Homo sapiens: one gene and its partner. The protein of the gene in region 2 interacts with the protein of the main gene of each other region in a biochemical or structural test. Each region holds a gene or a part of one and is shown on either strand. Other genes may lie near its edges.

Region 1 (3,808 bases), on a different chromosome or scaffold from region 2:
TCCCATGTGATGGCCGGGGTGGGGTGGGGAAGGCTGTGGCCTCCTCTGTCTCCTGCGCAGTAGGGAGGAGGGTGGAGCTGGAGCCGGCTCCGGCAGGGGCTGTACCTGCAGCACTGCTGTAGCGGCACCAGGATGGAGAGCTCGTCGTGCGAATACTTCCCAAACCTTCCAGAAGAAAAGCAGAATTGTCAAGGGCCCCTGTACAAGGTTCCTAACAGGCTGCTGGGCTGGGAGCTGGGCCATGGGTCCACCTGCCTGTACCCGACACCCCAGGCAGTGGGTCCACCCAGCCCATCTCCAGCACCCCGGGCAGTGGGTCCATCCCACCCATCTCCAGCACCCCAGGCAGTGGGTCCATCCCACCCATCTCCAGCACCCCAGGCAGTGGGTCCACCCCACCCATCTCCAGCATCCCGGGCAGTGGGTCCACCCTGCCCATCTCCAGCACCTCAGGCAGTGGGTCCACCCTGCCCATCTCCAGCACCCCGGGCAGTGGGTCCATCCCACCCATCTCCAGCACCCCAGGCAGTGGGTCCACCCTGCCTATCTCCAGCACCTCAGGCAGTGGGTCCACCCCACCCATCTCCAGCACCCCAGTCAGTGGGTCCACCCTGCCTATCTCCAGCACCTCAGGCAGTGGGTCCACCCTGCCTATCTCCAGCACCCCAGTCAGTGGGTCCACCCCGCCTATCTCCAACACCCCGGGCAGTGGGTCCACCCAGCCCCATCTCCAGCACCCCAGGCAGTGGGTCCACACTGCCTATCTCCAGCACCCGGGCAGTGGGTCCACCCAGCCCCATCTCCAGCACCCCAGGCAGTGGGTCCACACTGCCTATCTCCAGCACCTCAGGCAGTGGGTCCACCCCGGGCATCTCCAGCACCCCAGGCAGTGTGTCCACCCAGCCCATCTCCAGCATCCTGGGCAGTGGGTCCACCCAGCCCCATCTCCAGCACCCCAGGCAGTGGGTCCACCCTGCCCATCTCCAGCACCCCGGGCAGTGGGTCCACCCAGCCCATCTCCAGCACCCCGGGCAGTGGGTCCACCCTGCCCATCTCCAGCACCCCAGGCAGTGGGTCCACCCCGCCTGTCCCCAGCCCTGTATGTGGGGTCCTGGCCTCTGGCCTGGGGAAGGGTCCTGGGCAGCCGAGTTGAGATGGCTCCAGGGAGCGTCAGCCCACAGTTTAGCTATTGAAGTGCCCAAAGTCCATCTCTCTGAGGCCTCCGAGCCTGGGAATGGACGTCCTCCTGCCCGAGTTACTCGCCTCCATGCTTTGCTTATTAGGGGTCACCCTCCCTGGTAACCAGGGTCTCACAGCGCCGCCCAAGACCCCCCGTGGCAGGCCAGCAGCGGCCGCAGAGGCCGCCTATCCCCCGCTGGCTGGCTCCAGGTACCGCGTGCAGGCAGAGGCCCATCTATTCTGCACGGTCCTGCTCTTCCTACCAGCAGCCTCTCCTGGCCTCCGTTTCCCAGGTAACACCAGCTCTGCCGGGACTTGGTCTGCAGCATTCCTGTGCCTCGGAGGTCCCACTCCCGGGGCGGCCCTCCCTCCTGGTTGGGGCCTGGGGCCGCCCTCTGCATCTGGCTCTGAGATGGGCCTTTGCGACATTCCCATCCCTCCACTGGAGGGTCTGCTCCCCCCGTCCCCAGGGTCTCAGGTGGGCTGCAGGTAGCTGGGAGGTGGCCGGCCCTTCCCTGGGTGTGCAGGGGCGAGGACAGGCTCACCCTCTTCCATTGTCTAAGTGGATGATGAACGTTTCATTCCCAAACTTCTCAAAAGTCTCGTAGTGGTGACGGTCCATGTTTCCTGCGGAGAGAGGCAGAAAGTGTCACAGCTCGTGGGGAGCCGGGCCACGTAGCTCAGAGGCCTCTGTGCTCTGCAGAGCGGCGTCTCCTCCTGCCAGCGTGACCTCTAAGCAATCTGGCCCCTTCACAGGCCACAGGACCGCAGCCGGGCCGTGCCACGGAGTGTGCCCTGCAGAGCCCTGCGTGCATCCGCTCCACGCAAGGCGAGTGACACGGGGACCCCGTGCCCCTGCGGGACGTACCCATGAGGAAGTCGAAGATCGTCATGTCCATGACGTCCAGGATGCGGTGGCTGCTGTCGTAGGGCGGTGTCTGCTTCACCTCCTCGCAGTAGTCAGGGTCCACCTCCCACCTGCGGGGAGCCAGCGTGAGACGGGGGGCCCAGGCCAGATTCTGGGGAGCCCGGCGCGTGCCATGAGGAGCAGAAGAGAAACACTGCGGCAGGGACCTTGGCGTCTGCAGATGGACCCGCCCGGGCTGCGGCGCTGAGGCTGCATTAGCGGGAGCACGGGTGTGGGAGGGGACGGAGCCGCTCTGCCCTGCCTCGGGGTGACCCCACCTGGAGCTGCCTTCACCTCTGGGCCCCGTGTTTTTTGCAGAGTCTCTGTGGGGAAACAGGACCTGGACTACACACTCACGAGGACAACGTGGGGCGGAAAGAACAGGGGCCGTTTCTCCCGCAGGAGTGAGGAGAGGGACGGGGCGAGAGCAGAGCTCAAACGCTGAGAGGCCCCGATTCGAGGGACCTGGTGGGCAGGCCGGCCCGGGTCAGGGAAGCACATGGAAATACTGGAGTAAGGACGCCCTCTGCCACCGTCTCATCAGGAAGCGGTCATCTCACACAGGCCAGCATCGCACAGCAGGCTCTGCACCCATCTCTGCCACCCCCGTGGGCGCCGACCCTCCCATGCCCGCCCAGGCCCAGCTCCCTCTGCCGTAGGGTGGCCGGACGCCAGCCCCCCGGCCCCGCACTCACTCGGCCTTCTTGCGCTTGTGGTAGGAACGCCGCCAAGGGTTCCGCCAGGTCTTCCTCTTGGCCAGGGACAGGTCGGGCAGGAAGGCCGCCAGCGAGCCCTCGATCTGGTCTGGCTTCCCGCACAGGGCGTGCTCCGTGGAGCAGTAGTAGGAACACTCGCCGTAGAAGCAGATGTTGTTGGCTGGGGAGGGACAGGCTGCGGGTTACCAGGGCCGCACAGGGCTGCGTCCTCACCTGTGGTCTCACGGCCCCCAAGGCCGGGCCGGGCTCTGCCTGGTGCTTCTCATGGGCAGGACTCACCCACAGTTCCCCATCAATCCCAGCAAACACCTCCACCCCACGGTACAGAAAAATGAACCCACAGAGCTGACGTCCCGAGGCCACACAGCTCCCCAGAGGCAGAGCCCGGCCTGAACCCTCGAAAATCAGGGGCTGGTCTATGGAAACCCTAGGGCCAACATTTAGTCTTTTAAAAAATGCATTCATATTGTCAAGAAAGTGAAGATACAATCCACAGAATGGTAGAAAACGTTTGCAAACCGCACATCTGAGGATCTAGCATTTAGAGTGTATGAAGAACTCTCATCACTCAATCACAAAAAGACAAAAAAAACTAATAAATGGGCAGAGGGCTTGAACAGCTGATTCTCCAAAGACGACCCTGATGGCCGACAAGCATGAGAAGAGACGGGCGCCATCGTGAGTCACCGGGGAGATGCAAATCAAAGCCACGGTGAGGCACCATCTCCTGTCTGCTGGGATGGCTTCCATCAAAAGAGCAGCTGCCGGCTGGGACGGGGGAACCGCCACCTCTGTGCGCTGCTGGCGGGGGGTGCACACGGCACAGCCACGGCGGAAACGGTCTGCAGCCCCCAACTGATTAAACACAGTGTTTCCACGTGACCCAGGAACTCCCCTCCCATGTAAACCCCTAAGAGAAGAGAAAACATTTCTATACAAAAACTCAGACACGAATGCTCACAGCAGCACCGCTCACCACAGCCGAAAAAGAGAGAATCCACCCAAA
Region 2 (3,808 bases):
CAACAACAACAAAAAGGCCAGGCATGGTGGCTCAAGCCTATGATCCTAGCACTTTGGAAGGCAGAGGTGGGAGGATCGCTTGAGCCCAGGAGTTCAAGCTTGCAGTGGGCCACGACTGCACCACTACACTCCAGCCTGGGGGACAGGGGGAGACCCTGTCTCAAAACAAAAAAACTAAAAACAAAAGAACACCCTGAGGATCACAGCTCCCCCGTGTGTCCTGTGAGGGTGGGGCGATGGGAGTGGGGAAGGGCCTGGGGTCCAGCCCCACCCTGGCTGTGCCTCCCGCATCCCTGCAGGGACTTCCAGCTGCTCATTTGCCTGGGGATCCGGTCACCTGTGGATATCCAAACACCAGGTGTCCTGAGCTTCGCTGCCCCATCACACAGGCTGGGGACCATCTGAGGCCCACAGAGGCACCTCCCACCTCACTGTCCTATCCACCTGCTCATCAAGTCCTACCCCATGTGTTGCCTTCTCAGTGCCTGCCCAGGACTCTCGGCCAGGCTGGGGTGGGGGCAAAAAGGGGACTGGGGCTAACAGATCCCCCACGCCAACTCCACGCCTCATAGGTACCAAGAGTTCTGCGGGGGTCAACAGCATCCAACCAACTGCCTGATCAGTCAGGCCCCCCACCTTCAGAAGGGTGTCAAATCAAGGCCATTTGTACACAAACCCTAGGGCAGCTGAGCAGCCCTGGAACACTGTGAGTCAGGAGGATAATGTGGGCCAACCGAAGCCACGCCTGCTTCTTCCATCCCAGACCGCCAACAGCTGTGAGCAGCTCTGAGATCCAAAAATTACCTCTGACCAGTACCACACTGGACACCCACCCAAGCAGAACAGGCACTCGCTGGTAACTCGACACTGGGCTGTGGGGGATCAAGAGAGAAGCAGGGCCTCAGGGGACCTGGAATCTTCTCTCCCAGATCATTTCCTGTTGTTTCGGAGGAGTTTCAATCAACCAGTCTCAATCTGACCCCTGCATCTGACCATGTGAGTTAGATCCAAAGCATAATATTAGATATAAACCAAGAGCAAACTCTTGCAAAATCTCGTTAACCTTCAACTCGAATGTTCCCAGGGAAGGCAACGCTGCGGGTTAAAACTGCTCAGCCTTGAATCCAGCTCCCTCCCTTACTAAGACTCAAGGAGGCTCACTTCCTTCATCTGTAAAAATGGGGGAAGAGGCCGGGAGCAGTGGCTCATGGGTGTAATCTCAGCACTTTGGGAGGCTGAAGTGGGCAGACATCACTTCAGTCCAGGAGTTCGAGACCAGCCTGGCCAACATGGTAAAACCCAGTCTCCACTAAAAATACAAAAATTAGCTGGGCATGGTGGCGGGCACCTGAAATCCCAGCTACTCAGGAGGCTGAGGTGAGAGAATCACTTGAACCCGGGAGGCAGAGGTTGCAGTGAGCCAAGATCGTGCCACTGTACTCCATCCTGGGTGACAGAGTGAGACTGTCTAAAAAAAAAAAAAAAGCCAGGCATGGTGGCTCATGCCTGTAATCCCAGCACTTTGAGAGGCCGAGGCAGGTGGATCACCTGAGGTTGGGAGTTTGAGACCAGCCTGACCAACATGGAGAAAGCCCGTCTCTACTAAAAATACAAAATTAACCAGGCATGGTGACGTATGCCTGTAATCCCAGCTACTCGGGAGGCTGAGGCAGGAGAATCACTTGAACCCAGGAGGCAGAGGTTGCAGTGAGCTGAGATCATGCCATTGCACTCTAGCCTGGGCAACAAGAGCGAAACTCTGTCTCAAAAAAAAAAAAAATGGGGGAAGATTGATGAGATAATCCAGGAAAAGTGCTTACATTAGCACACTGACCACAGGAAAAAACAGAAGCTTCAAAATTAAACAAAAGGAAAAGTTATCACACCAGGATTGGGAGAACATTCTTTTTCAAAGGAACCACACACTCCTCCAGGCTGACACGGTGCCCGATGGCCAACACGCCACCACATCCACCACCTCTCTTCAGGAGAGACACATGCCTGCCGGAGTAACTGGTGCAGATGGATGGAGCTGGCTCAGTTCACAGGCCTCAGATACCGTTTGTTGCCTGGGACAGCTGCTAAAACTAAATTTTTTCCAGGTGAGTTAAACCTCCATAAAGATTATGGTGTAGATCAGCGGCATGCCCCATGTTCCAAGGCATGCAGAGAAACACAGGTCACATGGCCTGCGGGGACCATGCCCTGGACACCCAGGAAGGATATGGCCACGTGCTCTTTCTAAGACTACAGATGCTCAGAGAGATTCTGTACCACTCCTTGGGTGGAAGCTTCCAGAATGTCAGCCTGCTAGCTGTAAACATCGCAGAAGCTTTGGGCAATGCCTGATCCCATCCCCAGCAGCCTGTGAGCCACGAGGATCTTAATTCCCAGGTTGCTGAGCAAGCAGACTGTCACAGAGGGGAGACTGGGGGCTGGGAACCGGGAGGCCTGGAGTCTGCTTCTGATCTCATGGTTGAGAGTTTTCCCACCCGGAGCAAGTCCGGGCCTCAGTTTTTTCATTTATAAACTGAATGGAGGATTTGGCCTGCAGTTAAGAGCAGGCTTCCCCAATCCCACCCTGTGTAAGGGCATTGCTCTGGCAAAATTTCCACTGGGTTGCAACAAAATAGGGTGAAAGCAAAGCAGGATCCAGGGACCTCTACAAAGCCGGCCCGATTCCATCTACAATACTGTCTTTTATTGTGAGACCGCGTCCTTCCAAAATCCGGGGCATTAAAATGTCCCCTACCTCTGTGAAGTGGTGACGATATGAGATGGTGGTTGAATGGGTGTCTGTTTTTTATTTTAATATCCTCATCGGGCAAATGAGGATATTTTAAGTTGGCAAAGCTCCGTGAATAGCTGGGGATGAAGTAAAGGCATGTGATCAGAAGCCAGCCTCAATTTCCTTGATTTCCTCTGCTCAAGCTCAAAAACTCAGAGGCAGCTGAGGGCGTCAGGAGTTTTTAAAAGTGAATGGGAGCTTGAGGCTTCATCCTGTGTGCCTCCCGGACTCACCACACAAAAGGATCATGCCCCCACCCCACCTGCCCCACAGCATTGTCTAAAGCTACAGCAAAGAGTTGGAGTGGCCTCCGTGGTGTCCAGAACCAAGGAACCGAAAAGCCTGAAATGCAACAAGATGTCAACCACAGAGACCCTGATGGAAAGTTCCAACCAAACAGGACTGGGCGACTCCACCCAACCCCCACCTGCACCCTGCCCCTCCTGAGTAGCTGGGATTACAGGCGCCTACCACCACGCCTGGCTAATTTTTTGTATTTTTAGTAGAGACGGAGTTTTACTATGTTGTCTGGGAAGCCACCAGGGGTCCAGCCAGATTGGCCTATGTCCCTGCATCCCTTACAGTTCCAGGATGAGGACAGACTCGTGTCCCCTCTTCAAGACCACCTGGCCTCTGCAGGAGGAAGCAGGGCGAACTGGAGCCTGCTCTTAGGGCTCCTGGCCCCATCCCCAACACAAGACCTGACTGTGTCCACTGCTGAGCCTGTTCCCAGCATCTGTCATGGAGATGACAGGGGTCTTGGATGGTGAACCAGCCGGGAGGAGGCAGCAAGAGAGAAGGAGCAGAAGGTACCTCTCTGGGAAGGCGAGAAGCATTCTCCCCACAGTTCCCTCCAGGCAGCTCTGGCCCCGGCAGCAACTTCCTACATCAGCCCAGTGCACAGAGGGGCATCCTCATCCTTCTGCAACATCCCACCCTGCTCCAAGGGCCTCCTGGGCTTCCAGGACGCATCTCCCCTGGTGTTCCTCTCACCCCTCTGGCCACCTGTCATGCATCCTC

What was found.
Region 1: of the proteins of FBLN1 (region 2) and FAM20C, one has a biochemical effect on the other in vitro, tested with the Homo sapiens proteins (one large-scale study listed by IntAct).

What each region holds. Positions count from the first base shown.
Region 1 is NC_000007.14:255,003-258,810, reverse strand, and holds part of FAM20C (extracellular serine/threonine protein kinase FAM20C precursor), read right to left. Parts: intron 2,963-3,808; coding exon 2,782-2,962; intron 2,158-2,781; coding exon 2,048-2,157; intron 1,807-2,047; coding exon 1,725-1,806; intron 166-1,724; coding exon 106-165; intron 1-105. UniProt on the Homo sapiens protein: Golgi serine/threonine protein kinase that phosphorylates secretory pathway proteins within Ser-x-Glu/pSer motifs and plays a key role in biomineralization of bones and teeth.
Region 2 is NC_000022.11:45,509,130-45,512,937, reverse strand, and holds part of FBLN1 (fibulin-1 isoform D precursor), read right to left. Parts: intron 1-3,808. UniProt on the Homo sapiens protein: Incorporated into fibronectin-containing matrix fibers. May play a role in cell adhesion and migration along protein fibers within the extracellular matrix (ECM).